Linked DNA regions of Homo sapiens: region 2 is linked to region 1. The links come from fine-mapping of genetic effects on gene expression. A gene starts in region 1. The other region holds a variant in brackets. All regions are shown on one strand. Distances are from middle to middle.

Region 1 (8,337 bases):
CCTTCTCCTCTTTGCTCTGTCTTGCAACTCCATTGTCCTGCTTTCCGCTGCCCAGGGCCATGGGCTGCACCTGTTTGTGCTTCAGGGCCTTCATGTGAGCTGCTCCCTTACCCAGGACCACTCCCCCTCCCTCAAGAGAGAACTCTGACTCCGGCTTCAGGAGGTGCAGGAGCTTCCTGCATCTCCCTCTAAGTCGGATCTTCCCTTACATGCTTTCTTAGCACCCACCCCACCCCTCCCCCTCCTCTTTTATTCTCCATCCCCACCTTCCTCTCTCCTCTCCTGCCCCTCTGCTCAAGTCAGCTTCAGCCAACTTCACAGGGTTTGCTCCAACATTCCCTTAACCCTGGCACTCTCTCTGATTCTCTCTGGACCAGCGGTGTCCAATCTTTTGGCTTCCCTGGGCCACATTGGAAGGAGAGTTGTCTTGGGTCACACATAAAGCACACTAACACAAATGATAGCTGATGAGCTAAAAAAAATCGCTAAAAAAAATCTCATCATGTTTTAAAGTTTATGAATTTGTGTTGGGCCGCATTCAAAGCTGTCTTGGGCTGTATGCGTGTTGGGCAAGCTTGCTCTAGACTGGTTTAGGGCATCCCGCCTGTGCTCTTAGAGCACCCCTCTCTTCAGCGTCTGAATTGCAACTGAGGGTTATGTGTAAATTGCTGGGTCTCCAGGCCCTTCACAATGGTTGATGTTCAACATAACTCTCATAGATGAGCAAAGTACATCTCGTGGATGCTTCTGATTGTCTGTAAAGGCAGGCTCAATATTCACGTTCTGCAGAGATTACCAGGAACTTGCATAAAGCTGGAAAACACTTAATATTCTGAAATGTGGCCTTTATTGAGCATACTTCTCAGACAGCTTGTTAGTGAAATTAATGTCTGCCGATCATTAAAAGTAGGGGTTTCCCAACCTGGCTGCAACTTAGAGTCTCCTGGGGACTTTTGTAAACCATACATTTTAGGATCTCACACAAAGATATTTTGATTCAGTGATGTGAGGTCAGGTTCCAGGGGATTTGGTCACAGAGGTGTGGACCAAGGCTTGGGAATCTTCTTTTAAGGCCTTACTGACTTGAGTTAGAAGCACCTGCCAAATTCCTATGGGACTTCACTATCTGACTTTCAATATGCTGTATAATAACTTGAATTTTTAGATATATATTTTTCTCATCAAATGAAGATAAACTCTGTGCATAGGGATGGTATTTGATATCCTTTGTTATGTATTATTTTTGCACAAAAAAATTCATAAATTGAAAAATATCTTGCTGAAAATCCTTCTTCCCTCCCTCCCTTCCTCTCTTCCTTCCTTGCAAATAACAAGTGTTGGTATGTGTGTACATGGGTGCACATGTGTGTGCATGTATGCATGTACGTATTTGTGTTCGTGCATATGTATAAATGTGTGCATGCATGTGTAGATATATGTAAATGTGTGTATGCATGCATGAATTGTATATGTGTATGCATGTGCACACGTATGCATGTTGGCATCTGCATATATGTGTGCATATGTGTATGCATGTATGCATGAATATACATTTCTGCATATATGTGTGCACGCATGTATGCATATGTGTGTTTGTGTATATGTGTGCATATATATATTTATGTGCATATATGTGTTTTTTGGTGTGTATGTATACATGTGCATGTGTGTGCAAGCAGGTGTGGGTGTGTCCAAGCACACATACTCATGCAGTTACGTGATGGGAAGAACCGGCCATTTACCTGGATAAGGCGCACAGGGTTCTGCATGATGTCCTCTCCTCCAAAGAGATAGAGTCTTTGGTCTTTCACAGCGACTGCGGGGTGGAGCACCCCCACGGGCATGCTGGCCATACTCTCCCAGACATTGCAGATGCTGTCATACCTTTCCATGGAGCCCATGAGCTCCTGCCCTTCTCCAATCCCCCCGATGGAGAAGATGAAGTTCTTATGGGCAGTGCTTCTGTGGGAGTAGCGGGCCACCAGCATGGGCTCCCCCAGCCTCCACTGATTGAGTTTCAGGGAGAAGATGTAGACATTGTGACTGACCAGACTCCTCCCTGAGCTGACAGCCATGCCCCCCAGCACATAGATGCTGCGGTGCAAGGTGATGGCAGAGGCCTTGTACAGCCGTGTCGGGAGTTTGGCAAGGCTCTGCCATTGGCCGGTCTGTTTGCTGTACAGTAGGACGTCCCTGGTGGTCTGCTGGCTGTCCTTCCTTCCGCCCAAGAGGATGAGGAAATCTTGGTAAGAGTTTCTTGGAGGGACATGCAACAGGAGTTTGCAGTCTGGGACGGTGGTGCCACACAAAGAGAACATCTGTCTCTTGGCGGTCTCCAAGATGATCTGGCATGCAGGCGAGGACTGCAGGAGGGCATCGTTGGCGATGAAGTGGTGAAAGAAGGCTGGGTGGATGTACTGCAGCCTGACCTGCTTGAACAGTTCCTGCATGTATCGCTTCCGGGCCTGGAGGTCATGCTTGATCCAAACCATGAGGGCCTCAAACACCTTTTCCTCCTCCCCACAGAGCCCATCATCTCCGAGATAGTCCCTCAACTCCAAGGCACAGAGCTCCTTCAGGTCGGCCGATGCGGCCACCTCTGGGAAGGACGTCAGTGCCACCTCCCTGGCTTTCTTCTTGAGGGTCTCGCAGCTTAAGATTTCTGAGAGTCTGATCATACCCAGGCAGTTGCTGGGGGCCAACTGGCTCTGCAAGTACGAGGAGCAGGCCTCAAACAGCTTGGGGAACTGTAGCATGGAGGCGGCCTCCATCACGGGGAGGACATTGTCAGTGGCAATATGTGCCTCCCCCGTATACACGTAGGAGACGATCTGGTCCAGGGTTGGGGGGTCAATGCCTTTCAGCTGCACTTTGGCTTCACTCTTCTCCCGGAAGCTGCTGCAGAACATAGCCCTGAAGTAGGGGCTGCTGGAGGCCAGCACGTTGCGGTGGCAGGGGATCTCCCGGGCACCGGCACAGATGCTCACATCAGTCAGGATCCTGCTTTGCCTTAAGCTGTTGAGCTGCCTCAACAAGTCAGAAGAGAAGTCGTGGTCTTTGAAGAGCAGCCCATCTAGTGACTCCTCGTCCATCCTACAAAGAGGGAAGGAAGCCCCCAGAGTCAGCAAGAGTCAAACCTTTCTCAGCTGCATGTGCTGGAGGGTTCAGCTGTGGGGACTCCAAGACCAGTGCTCCTATTCCATTCCCCATGATGTTTGCGGATGTCACCATGGATATTGTGTAGGGAAGATTGGAAAGGAAGGCCACATACATCTCAGACCTGAGCCCTTTTGGGTTATGGTTATTTTCAAAAGTAATAGGCAAATAGTATCTTCAGCTAATCTGAGAGAAACAACCAAACAAACAAACTAAAGTTGTTGGAAGTTACTCTGTTATCAGAAGCTGAAATGTTAGTCTGAAGCAAGATAACAGTCCATGGATTTGACCAGCAGAAGTTCATGAGCCTTTTTCCAGATCGATGGCATATCTGTTATTGAGTAACAGATGTCTAAACCTCTCTTTCTGGGTGTCAATCATTCCCCAAGGATGATATTCTGGAGGTGTGGCCCTCTGGTCACTGGACAGAAATGAGGGAAGAAAATGGACCTTTGATGCATATATTTAAATATGACTTCATTGAGTCTTGTTTTAAAGATAGAATAAATAAAAGGAAAGACCAAACAATCCCCTGGTTTATTGGATGACACCTGGTTTTCTACTTGCAGAAGAAATAAGTATGAGGGACACTTACCTTGTTTTGCTGCGGTGACATCCACTGGTGCCTGGTCTGACTTATCCCCCCGGAGAGTTTCTACCTCTAGCTCCAAGGGAAACCATAAACCCCAGGCCTTTCTTTCAGTTGGCAAATGATTTGTCCTGGGAGATTTCTGGATTTGTTTATGCTGAAGGCACTTTCATAGTTTTCTAGAGCTTTGTGCAAGGACTGCTGGGCAGGGAGACAGTGTATACATTCCAGGGCTAAGAATAGTTGCATATGTACTTTCCACTGTTATGACATGTGACTTTCCAGTTGCCTTTTGCAGCAACCCGAGGGCCTGCAGGGCCGGCGCATGCCCACATGCCTCGTTTCCTTGGCAAGTGTTTACATCGGCAAAAATAGATCGGGAGGAGCGGCTTCTCTTAGAGAAGACTTTGCTGTCTGCTTGGAACCATCCCGAGTCCCCTGTCCTAAAAGTGCTTGGGAATTCTAGCCGTCTGTAAACAGGTTGCTGTGACCTGTGGAGAGTCACTGAAGATGGTTCTGGGCCACAGTGGAGGTGGCAGGTGGTCACAAGGGAAGCCGGAACATGAGCCTGTGGGTGCTATTCAATGGATCTCTATTTCCCACCATCTGCCTGGCGGGATCGCTGGGGAGAGCTGTGATTTCCTCCTCCAGGATCCTAGGTGATGAAATCCATGACAAAAGTTGTTGTTTTTTGTTGTTGTTGTTGTTGAGCATCCCAGGGTTTCCAGACTCCTGAAGGCCCAAACCTTTGTCAGGTCTCCTTACTCAGGAACCTCTGATTGACAGTGGTAAGGCCGAGCTCCTCCTGTCGCGTCTGCCTCTCCCAGACACGTGCTGATTGCTCTTCAGCTGGCTTTTTATAGTTCAGACTTCCTTTTCTGTCTTACTTTTCCATTTTGTCTTGTCTGGCAGCTTGAGCTAGAGGCAGGAGGCAAGGCATATTGCTTTAGGGAGAGAGAGAAAGAAGATGAAGGAGGATGAGGAGGAAGAAGAAGCAGGGACAGAGGGAGGGAGAGAGACGAGAGGAGGAAGAAGAGGAGGAGGAATAGGAGGAGGAGGAAAAGAAGCAGGAGGTAGAGAATCGGGGGAGGAATGATGATAGTGATGTGGTAGGAGGCAGCTTTCAATAACAATCAGAATCACGAGAGAGAGTGAGGGGGACCTCAGGTCTGTTCTGCCCCTGCCTTCAGGGAGGTCCATGATTGTCTTAGCCACAAAAGGCAGGGAAGCCTGACTTTGTCTCCTACTCAACGTCTTGCTCAACTAGTGCAATGGTCTTCCATGCATTTTTTTTTCTTTGCTCCTAGTACTTCTCTCTCCAATACATCCACCCTGTCTTCTCTGGAGCAGCCCCTGGGAAGGCAACTCAGAATTTGCCAGTCCCCAGCATCAGGCCCTTCAGTGGCTCCCCATGTCTGCAGGACTCCTTAGCCAGAATCGGACTGGTGTCCTGTCTGCTTCTGGAACCATGTCTACTGCCACTCATGTGTGGTAATCTAGCTCCATGAGACACTTACAGATCCTTGTATGCATCTGGTCACTGTTGGGGAAGCTGGGCTGGCCTGGCCTTTGGGACACCACAGGGCAGGGTGGAAGGAAGAGGGTTTCTCATTCACAGTTGCCGATCGTAGAGTGGATTATGCCCAAAAGAGTCCAGAAGGTCAAGGCCAGGGAAATGGATCCAAAACATGTTACTGGGGCCATGGGCCTGGAGGCCAGAATTAGGAGCAGGAGGCCTAAGCTAAGGGGGTCAGAGACCCATGGAGGCACAAGCAGGGAGCAGGTGAGAGGAGCTGTTCCTCCATATGTCCGAGTTGGTGAGCTGTGCTGGTGACATAATAAGTGAGTAGCCACATTCCTGAAAGAGCCCAGGGATCCTCTGATTCGTACTCTATCCCTTTCTATGAGCTCTTCCCCTCTGCTCACTCTATCATTTTCACTGTTTCTGTTCGTCTTCCAAAACTTGGTTTATGTATCACTTCTCTGCAAGTCTTTTTACCCCTCTCTAAGACACTTAACTTCACACTCCTCTGTGCAGTTTCCATTCTTCTACATGCCTCTAATGGCATGCCTCATACCTCACTGAGATTATGTTTACTTCCCTGTGTCTCTCTTATTAGAGTGGAAGTCTCTGGGCAGCAGGAATCTTGACTTCATTGTAGCTCTACTCCTAGCACCCAGCACAGGGCCTGGCTTATAGGGGGTGAATTTCATACACTTCCTGCATTGAGCTGGAACAGAATGGGGAATGGGGAAAGAGAGGGAGCTTTGCTGGGTGGACTTCACACCACTGTCTGCTGTGCCGGTTTTGCAGAGCTGCCATGTATGGCTTACTGCGTAGACTGCCCTGCAAATATGCTCTGGAGCAGCCCTGATTATCCACATAATCAAATCCAATAATGTGATGAAGTGAAAAGTAAAACACTTGTTTTATACTGCAGTGCAAGACTTAAGTTCAGGCTGGGAACTGAACTGAGGTCCTCCCAACGCCAAAGCTAGCATTCTTGTCCTTGACCTCGGAGTGAACATGAGGAAGAAATAACTTCCTTAATGCTCTGAAACACCTGCATGATTTCTCTTCCAGGCAGCAAGCAAGCCAAGGATTTATTCTGAGGGTAATAGGTAGGGGATCCTAGGAGTGAATTAACACAGCACCGTTCCCTGGGAAGGATGTTGGATTTTCCCCTACATCCCCTTACTAATTAAACTTTCTGGAATCCAGCTCTGTCAATTGTTCAGATAGACCTTGGTGTGCAGCATCAATGTCTGACCAACTTTACTAAATCTTTTGGTTTCTAATGTTTAGAAAAAATAGGCCCTGTTTTGTTGGCCTGGCCTACCAGGAGGATCCTGGTTCTAGGTCAGATGTCAAATGTCAAGACACAGAGTCTTAGTGTTCAACATGGCAAACACACACATATAAGCCCAAGCTTGACCCCAAAAAGCATCTCTACCACCCACATGTAGCCCAACCAGCCCATTCATGAGTTGACTTCTCTCAGGGAGGTTTATACTTTTTGTCTTAACTTTCATCTAGAAGATGTCTTAGTCTAGGGCCTGAACATATGGCAACCTAAAAGAAATGACATCAATGAGGACATTCAGCTCATTGTTTCTCCTTTTTTTGTTTCTTCTGAGACAGGGTCTCACTCTGTGGCCCAGGCTGGAGTGCAGTGGCATGATTATGGCTCACTGTAGCCTCCAACTCCGAGGCTCGAGTGATCCTCCCACCTCAGCCTCCTGAGAAGCTGAGACTAAAGGCATGAGCCACCACATCCATCTATTTTTTGTGTTTTTTGTAGAGACAGGGTTTTGCTATGTTGCCCAGGCTGGTCTTGAACTGCTGGGCCCAAGAGATTCACCCACCTTGGCCTCCCAAAGTGCTGGGATTACAGGCATGAATCACGGCCCTCCTTTTGATGAAAGTCAGTATCATAACAAGTCAAGGCCTGAACTTTGGGGGCAGAAGGGCTGGGGATAATCTTGGCATTTCCCCTCAGTATTCATGTGGTCTTGGGTAAGTTATTTATACTCCTCCAGCCTCAGTTTCTCCATCTGTTAAGTGGGGATAACCATCCTTGTCACAGTGAAATAATGTATGTGCAGTATGCAGTAAAGTGCCTGGCACAGTGTATATTCATAGTAAAGTATGGTCAGTATGATATTATTACTCTAAAATTAATCTCATTAGATTCCAATGGGTCTTGGTGCCTGGTTTTCAGTGTCTCAATTGGTCCCCTGTGCATTCTAGCATTTTCCTTTTCCTTGAGCAATTGCTGTGTTCCTCATGATCTACTTAGCCTCCAGGAGTCCTGGCATTCAGTCTGGGCTCTGCTATCGACTAGCTGTGCATCTTTGGATGAGTCAATTAACCTCTCTGCACTTATTTCCTCACCTGGCCCTTCTAGATCACCTTCCTGTGGTTTGTACCCTGAGGTGTTCTCTGCAATCTGTGGCCTAGAACAGGGACTGGGAGAAACTGAGACTGAGGGATGAGGGCTCTTCAGAGCTTCCTCACGGCTCTCGCCTGAAGCCAAGTGCAGAGAAGAAACCTAAGTCGAGCTCCCAGCAGGTGCCCTTGATGAGTTTGCCCTTGTAAGTCAATCCAGAAAGCCTTCATTTTCCCTCCTGGAGTTTTGGATTGCCATGGTGGGCACTTTGACTCAGGAGGCCTTGGTTTCTTTCCTATCTGGGTGTGCGGGGTCTGGGTCCCCAAGGAAAGGGCAGGCTGGCTCCTGTCAGCAGCAGGTTTGACAACAACAGCTGGGAAGCCACAAAACACTCTCTGCCACAACCCTACCCTCAGTCCTCTCAACCCACTCGGGGCCGTGCTCCCCATCTGCTCCTTCCAGGAGAAGTCCCCTCACTCTAATTAGGAACCATAGCTATGGTGATTGCTGTGTTTCAAGGATGGACAAACATGCACATAAAGGCCCCTGTGGTGCTGCGGTCTCTCTGGAAGGCTGTCCCCTGCTAGCATCAGAGAATCTCCTGTTCTTACAGGTGGAGAGAAACATGAGGAGCAGACAGGTAAGGTTGCAATTAACTGAATCATTATAAGCTGTAGGAAGAAACCTGGGTCTTGATATAAG
Region 2 (8,337 bases), 27 kb after region 1:
AGGCCCATTACATGATTGGAATAGGGACTGGCCAGTTGCCCTCCAGCCCTTTGGACTTGAAAGCCTGAGTACTGGTGAGGGGTGGGGCTGAAAGGAAATGACAAAGGGCTATTGCCTCCAGTCTCCATCAGGCCCCAGAAGTCCAGATTAGGCAGTGCCACCTGTGCAGCAGAAGGAAGTGGGGTGTGTGTGTGTGTGCACACATGCACAGGTGTGTGCATGCATGCAGGAAGGCATTTTGCCTATTCGATGTGATTGAGGCCCATGTAGGGTCCCAGCAACCTGAGCAGAAGAAATAGGAGAGTTAGAGGCCAGAGAAGACTAAGAACGTGAGTGGCCAGTGCCACTCCAAGGGGCTCATGGGAGCAATGTCCCACCCTGGACCCTGGTGTCCCGCCCTGGCCCACTCTGGAGGATGCCTCCCTGCCTTCAGCTGCTGTGCCCCTCCCTGTGGGCTGGGAAGTCCTTGGGGTCCAGGAGACACACCCACTTGTGGCTTGGACACCCTTTTCTTGACCTAGCTCCTGAGACTTCAAAATGCCCTGCCCTGAGCCCTGAGCTGAGCCCTGAGCTTCCAGGGTTGCTGCGGGTCTCTTCCCAAGGTCCATAGCAGGTTGTGGAAAGAAGTTGGCTGGGTGGGCCAAGCTGTCCTCATAGGTCCCTCCCAGTTCAGGACAGACGCAGAAGCTGAAGAAATGGGCTGGACCCACACATTTGAGGGGTGGGCCTGTATGGGGGAGCCACGTGGAAGCCCTGGCACTGCTGAGAGGGATCTATGGAGGGCTGAAGCTCCCACAGTAAGTCATGGGACACCCTTGGCTCCTGGGGTGGGGTGGGAGGACTTTCAGCTTCTTCTATGGTTCACCCAGACCAGCTCCCCAGAATCTATTCACCCACAAAACCCAGGTGACTCACTGTGAGTGAGAAATAGTGTGGAGCACAGTCAGGGCCTGGCACAGAATTCCATGGGGAATGGCATACCTTGGCAGAATATGCTCTCCTCTGTGCATCCCTGGAGGTGGGGTTTGGAGCCCCCTACCTATCTAAGCATCTGGGTGGCAGGAGCTGGCATTCCTTTAGTGGCCCTAGAGGAAGGGGCTAGTATGAGGAACAGGGCTGTGCAGTGGGGAGATGTCAAGATGGTGATGCTCTCCTCTCTCCCTTCTTTCTATTTTTATCCTCCCCATTCCCTCTCTCTGCAGGCAGGCGGGCTGGGGGCACAGGGAGAAGTCAGAGGGACCTGGGCAGGGCAGGGGTGTGTGGAAGGGAAAAAAGAAGACATTCCTGAGTTGCCTCTGTGAGAGAGGCATACCTCTCTCACAGAGGGGCATACCTGGGGCAGACCAGACCCTAGGCGAATACCTAGAAACTGGCTCCAGCTTGCAAGTGATGAGCAATATTGAGCAGCCACAGAAAGGAACCTTGATGTCTCACTCAGCAAAATTTTAGACAAAAGCACTCATGGACCATGAGCTAGTCTGGCGAAGAGCACGGGCATTAGAGGCAGAAGGACTTGGGTTGAATTCTGGCCCTGGTACTTTATGTGGGTGATCTTGAGTAAATGACCTGGCTTCTCCATCTTATCAGCCTCAGTTTCTCCACCTGTAAAATATCTTCTTGCTTGTCTCTGTGTGAATTATGGCCATCAACAATCTCAAATTGTGTCTGTTTTTAATAGATCTCTTTTCAGTCCATTGATTTGTTTTTCTGTCCTTACCATGAGCTCAGATCCCAAAAACTGGTTGTTTTGTTTCTGGTTATAAAAGCAAAGACCAGCTTTGGCAACAAATAGGTAAATACAAATACGTTTTGTCACTGAGCTTGGTTCTAGAAAATAATTTTTTATGTATTAAAGTTTATAATGATGGCAATGACTATTAAGTAGATAAACCAGGATGTGGAAGACACTGATGTTAACATAACTTCTTAATATGTCCATCACTGTTTTGTAGCAACTAAAAAGACAATTATGGCATCTATCCTTAACTGATTGGGCTGTTTGTTATATGTTGATCACACCCCAAATGGTGTGAATGAGATTGTGCTACTTAGTAGTGTCAGGCACAAATAATCAGCCAATGAAGGATAACTATGATTATTGGACCAAGGTGTTCAGGTTCTGTTGACAGATCCCTCTATGTCTAGCAGCCACTAAAGTGATTTCCCAAAGCCCAGATGTGATCATGTTCTTCGCTTAAACATCTCCAATGACTGCTGTTGCCCAGAGGACCAAACTCATGCTTGGCAGGCAGAACCATGGCTGATGTGGTTCAAACCTATTTTCACAGCTGCTTTGCCTGCCTGCCAGGGCCATTCCTTTCTTTCCACACATCTGTGCCCCAGGAGAATGGATTTCACCTCTCCCTGAACACACCCTGCCCACTCAGGCTTCTCCAGCCTCTGCTTGTGCCCTTCTTCTTTTATTTTTCTGGAGAGCTTCTATGCATTCTTTAAAACCCAGCACAAATGCATCTCTGGGAAGTGTTCCCCAGTTCCCCATGCAGAGCTGTGTGTTCTCTCTTCTTACTCATAGGTAGAGCCCTTTACCTGCTTGATATGGTTTGGCTCTGTGTCCCCATCCAAATCTCATCTTGAATTGTAATCCCCATGTGTCGAGGGAGGGACCTGCTGGGAGGTGATTAGATCATGGGGGGAGTTTCCCCCATGCTGTTCTTATGATAGTGAGTGAGTTCTCACAAGATCTGATGGTTTAAAAGTGTGGCACTTCCCCTCCCCCATCTCTCCTGCCACCATGTAACACGTGCTTTGCTTCCCCTTTACCTTTTGCCATGATTGTAAGTTTCCTGAGACCTCCCCAGCCAGGTGGAAATGTGAGTCAATTAAACCCGTTTTCTTTATAAATTACCCAGTCTCAGGTAGTTCTTTACTGCAGTGTGAAAATGAACAGTGTGAAAATGAACAAATATACTGCTCTTATTAATGCACTTACAGCATTCTATTGAATAAAAGAGACATTATTGACCTGGGAATGAACTGCCCCAAGGGGAGTCAGTGTTCTACTTGTCTTTGTATCCTCAGAGCACACCACAGTGATTGGCAGATAGTAGGGAACTAAGCAGATGAATGAATACAGACCCATTCCCATGTACTTCAACTGATTTTTCCAATTAAGGCAGTTAGTAGCATGATTCCTGGTGTCAGCCAGCCCTGGATTGAAATGCTAGTTGACATGGTTTGGCTCTATGTCACCACCCAAATCTCATCACAAATTGTAATCCTCATGTGTCAATTGTAATCCCCAGGAAAGACCTGGTGGGAGTGATTAGATCATGGGGTCTGTGTCCCCCATGCTGTTCTCGTCACAGTGAGGGAGTTCTCATGAGATCTGATGGTTTTATAAGGGGCTCTTTCCGCTTCGCTCACCACTCTTTCTTTCCTGCTGCCACATAAGACGTGCCTCCTCCCCTTCCACCATGATTGTAAGTTTCCTGAGGCCTCCCCAGCCCTGCGGAACTGTGAGTCACTTAAACCTCTTTTCTTTATAAATTACCCAGTCTTGGTAATTTTTTACCGGTAATTATAGCAGTGTGAAAACAGCACTTGTAAATGAATTTAGATAGGTTACTTAATGTGTCAGTTTCCTCAACTGATAATTGGGAGTAATATTAACCACATAGAGCTGTGGGGAGGATTAAGAATGAAATTGGACTACTCAGTGTCAGGCACAAATAATCAGCCAATGAATGACAACTATGATTATTGGGCCAAAGTGTCCAGGTTCTCTTGACAGATCCCTCTATGTCTAGCAACACGTGGCTATGAGACTAAAGTTTTGGAACACAGAATCTATTGGTGTGGAACCAATTCACTTCAGAGGTAGACCATTGATCTTGATCTTGTTGGCACTTTGCTCAGCTTAATTGTATTTGAAGATCAGAGGGAAGACTCAAGTGGGTCAAATGTCTAGAGAAGAAAACCCAGTTAAACCAGGTAGCAGATTAGGGAATTTTACCCTTAGTTACAGTTTACAAAAGCAAGTGAATTGTTTCCTTATGACTAGCCTTGATTAGTGACCACTAAAAAATGTAGGTTTGAATTTCACAAGTCATACATTTCCCAGAGAAGAGCCCAAACTTATCAAGACAATCTTTGGAAAAGCAGCTGATAGAGGCATAATCCACAACTTTAATTAACAATGAGGCTTTCAAATTGAACACACAGAAGGAAAATTAATAAATTGTTTAATTTTGTCTTTCCTGTACCTTACTTGTGTGATGCATATCCTTCTAAATGTGCCATTACAAATGCATAGTTTTTTCATCAACTGCTGATTTCATTAGTGTTTAGAAAACATCCAGTTACCATGCTAAAAGAAAGTGAAGAGGCAGCCTAGATGCTTGCTAAGCCAGAGTTCAAGGTGCCCTGCCCACGCATCTTAACGTTACTGCCCTTAACTTACACAGCTTGGCCTGGCTGCGCCACTTAAGCTGCCAAGAAAGTAATCCGGGACTCTTAAGGGTTTTCGTGCGGGAGTCTCATTTGCAAGTTTGATTTGGAATGTGCTCTTGACAAAGG[C/T]GGTTCCACCCTGTGTTCCTATTGCCCTGGCTTGGCTCAGTGCAAGAGGGCTACTAGCAGTTTCCGGAAGTCCCCGGAGGTATCTGAGCGAACCATGTCAGAGAGAGACTTCTGATACTTCTCTTGGAACTTTGCTTTGATCCCCTGAAGGTCCACCTGTAGAAAAAATAACAGCAATGGAGATAAGAACGTTTATGGTGTGTTCACAAACAGTGGGCACTGTTCTACACATGTTATACTCATTTGCTCATTCATGCCTTAAAACAGCCCTTGAGATAGGGCTTTATTTCCTATCATTATTTCCTTTATCACGTTATTTCAATTTTGTGATCAGGAAAGGGAAGGCAGAGGTCAATTCCCCAAAGGTTGCAGAGGTGTCCACGTGTGTGTGTGTTCCACTAAAACTCTTGAATTTCTTTTTTTTTTTTTTTTTTTTTGAGACAGAGCTTTGCTCTTGTTGCCGAGGCTGGAGTGCAATGGTGCAGTCTCGGCTCACTGCAATCTCCGCCTCCTGGGTTCAAGCAATTGTCCTGCCTCAGCCCCCCAAGTAGCTGGGATTACAGTCAACCACCATGCCTGGCTAATTTTTTTCTGTATTTTTAGTAGAGACGGGGGTTTCATCATGTTGGCCAGACTGGTCTCGAACTCGTGACCTCAGGTGATCCACCCACCTCAGCTCCCGAAGTGCTGGGATTACAGGCGTGAGCCACCGTGCCTGGCCCTAAAACTCTTGAATTTCATACAGTTTTTACATGTTACAAAGTATTATCTTTCTTTTGAGTTTTAACAGTTATTTGAAAATGAATTGCCCTAAGCTAGCAGGACTGTACACAACCTGGCAGTGAGCCTGAATTGGCCTGCAGGCTGTAGTTGGTTGACCCCTGGTATAAAACTAAGAAAATTGTCAACACAGAGATGTGGAATTAAGCAATTAAGCAGTTTTTCCCTCATACCATGATTAGCAAGGATATTAGTACCAGTCAACACAACTCAAATCACTAGCAACTTGTAGGATTTATTTTGAATCTAATTTATTGGAAGCTTGAAAAACCCAGGTGCTAGAAGTGATGATAGGACTCAGGAGAAAAATAAATCCAAAGATTGCTCTGCCAGAAGATTCTTACAGCCTAGCAAAGGAGACGATACTTGTACCAGAAAAGATGTAATTCCAGGTAGAACATAATGGATCTCATAAAAGAAGCAGAGAACTCTTTTTAACCAGGAGTCTTTCTTTTCTTTTCTTTTTTGGCTTAGACCCTACCTTGTACTCCAGACCCAAAAAGTGTGGCTCAGGGATCTGATTCTTTCTTCTCTTGCCCCAGTGAGAGGGCTGAGCTGAGACAGTGAGAGAAATGATCAGGATGGGAGTATGTGGGGGAGTGAGGGAGGGTTTGCAGTGGATGTGGAGCAGGTGGCAGACACTACAGGAGACAGGTGGTGTCTGTCTCTCCCCCAGCCTGTGTGTCCCCCTGCTCCGCTGCTTGGCTCCTTGCCCCGTGCTGGGACACGGGCAGGAAGGTGGAGGGTGGGTAGGGATGGGGTGCACAGGGCTCTGTTCTGTGGCTTTGGGAGATTAGGAAATCTGGCCAAACTACTATATCTAGCCAGGCCTGAAGCCTTCTGAGGTAACTGCCCACATGTTGAGATGGCCCAGGACGTGTGGTTGATTCTGAGATGGGACAGAGCTTCTTGGAATAAAACACTCCGTGGGCCATGTCGGAGTGATCACGGAACCCTCACAAGCCCTTCGGATGGATCCAGTCTCTCTGGGGGTCATTTGGAATCCTGGGTCTTCATTGTGTTCAACCTGTCCCTTTTGAGTCCCTCAAGATCTCTCATCTCTCAGTGACTTTGGCTGGAGGTCGAGTTGCTAACAGACAGAGGGACGGACAAGGCAGAAGACCTGGAGAGAAAGGAGGGAGAGGGATTTGGAGCCATGGAGGAGAGAGGCAGAGGCATGGCAGGAGCAGAGCAGAGAGACTGGCAAAGGGAAAGAGGGGAGAGAGAGAGACATGGCCTTCAATAGAAAAAGATGAGTTGTGGAGGAGGAGAAAGGAGGGGAGGAGAAATTCCAGGAATAGAAATAAAAAAGCAAGAACCATCTTGTTGCAAAGTTATATTTAAAAACAGTGTCAGATGTTAAGCATTATTTGTTAAGAAGCCATGGATCAGAATTTGGGTTGGTGTCCCTCCCCCTTCACCTCCCCCTTCATTTAACCACTTTTTTTTTTTTTTTTTGAGGGAAGATGTCTGTGGTTTTCAAGTGCTTAGTTCCACTTCATTCCCCAAGGCTTCTCCTGCTGCCGATGAAATGCCACTTCCCCTTTATTTTGTACCACCTTCTGTCTGTGGCCCCATATCCCGAACTGTTAGCTGTGACCTTTTTTTTTTTTTTTTTTTTGAGACCGAGTCTCGCTCTGTTACTCAGACTGGAGTGTAGTGGCACCATCTTGGCTCACTGCAACCTCCACCTTCTGGGTTCAAGCAATTCTCATGCCTCAGCCTCCTGAGTAGCTGGGACTACAAGTGTGTGCCACCATGCCCAGCTAATTTTTGTATTTTTAGTAGTGACGGGGTTTCACCATGTTGGCCAGGCCGGTCTCGAACTCCTGACCTCAGGCGATCCACCCACCTCGGCCTCCCAAAGTGCTGGGATTACAGGCATGAGCCATTGCACCCGACCAGCTGTGATCTTGACGGCTGCTCCCAAGCCGTTGGCTCTTCCTCTCCCTTTTCTTTCTTATACATACACATTCTCCGAGAGCAAGCACAAATTGGTTTTTAGGGGGTGAAAAAGCCCTTAATTTTTTTATGTATAAAGCACTGATATCCACATGGTATATAAACAGATTTGTAGTATTATCTCTGGTGTTAACATTTCTTGTGGGGAAGGGATGGCAATGAAGAAACACGTGTCTAAAAAGGTTCCTTAGAACAGCAATAGTTTTTAAAAAGATTGAGAACCATTGCCTTATGCTGATGTGCTTGCTTCTGCAGTGTGTTCAGTTAAGGAAAGGCCTCACTCAGGAATTCAGAAATCATTCTCTTTTTGTTCCTGCTGCTGGTTGACCTCTTTCAAGTGTGTTTGTTTTGTCTTCCTTAACATGGAGCCATGCATAGCTGCAGCCCCTGAGAACTGCTCGACATGGTTGCCTCTGCGCCCCTCCACTAGCTCTCCAGAGCCACAGAGGACAAAAAAAGAAGCAACGATCATTATTGTATTTTTATAAAAAGAAACAGATTGAAGCAGAGCACAATGTCTTCTGCAAATTCTGGGAAGGCAAGGGGCCGTCTCTGTTTTACTTTTTCTGTAAATAGGCCCTTAATAGAAACTATTTGTTGATGACATCAGTGGTGGAAAAAAGAGAAGTTGCAGCCGCCTCTTTGGAGTCGGAGTGTGTCTTACCTCGGCCCTGGTCACGACTATGCGAATCAACGTCTCCTCATCGGTCCCCGCACCCTTCATCGACTTGTACAGACGTTCAGCAAAATAGTCCTCACAATCCTGGGCACATCTCACTGGGCAGGACAAAGGAAAAGAGAATGTGAGGCTTTCACGTTTTGTGGAATGACCTTGGGACCCCCCTAAATGTCACCTGGCTGCCCTTCGAGCTGACTGGATGGTGAGACAGAGGTGTGAAAAGAGCTGACTTGACACCGTTGCGAAATGAGATTTGGAAGATTCCCTGGTCAGAGCACCTGGAATCTTCAAGCATAGCTCCCCTCCTGTCCCCTGAAGACCCTCTAGAGGAGAGCTGTGGCATCCTCGGGCCCTCCCGGCCACGTCCATGATTCTCGTTA

Alleles and levels. Positions count from the first base shown, and alleles are read on the strand shown. Sizes are in standard deviations (SD) of each study's normalised expression.
In carriers of allele C in region 2, the expression in fibroblasts of the gene that starts at base 3,967 in region 1 tends to be higher than with T alone (small effect, 0.16 SD a copy in GTEx).

Evidence for each region.
Region 2: its variant is fine-mapped to the expression of KLHL38 in fibroblasts (GTEx, PIP 0.99).

Annotation. Positions count from the first base shown.
Region 1 is chr8:123,649,835-123,658,171 of GRCh38, forward strand. It overlaps KLHL38 (kelch like family member 38), which reads right to left and starts at 3,967. Exons shown (of 4, transcript NM_001081675.3): 1 at 3,752-3,967; 2 at 1,743-3,093. The coding sequence starts at 3,092. LOC105375738 (a long non-coding RNA gene) reads left to right here and starts at 8,104. Exons shown (of 4, transcript XR_928606.3): 1 at 8,104-8,275.
Region 2 is chr8:123,676,668-123,685,004 of GRCh38, forward strand. It overlaps ANXA13 (annexin A13), which reads right to left. Exons shown (of 11, transcript NM_004306.4): 10 at 7,943-8,055; 11 at 4,127-4,692. The coding sequence ends at 4,573. Among named protein-coding and RNA genes, the nearest start is that of KLHL38, 27 kb to the left of the region's middle. The variant C/T (reference allele first, on the strand shown) is at 4,537.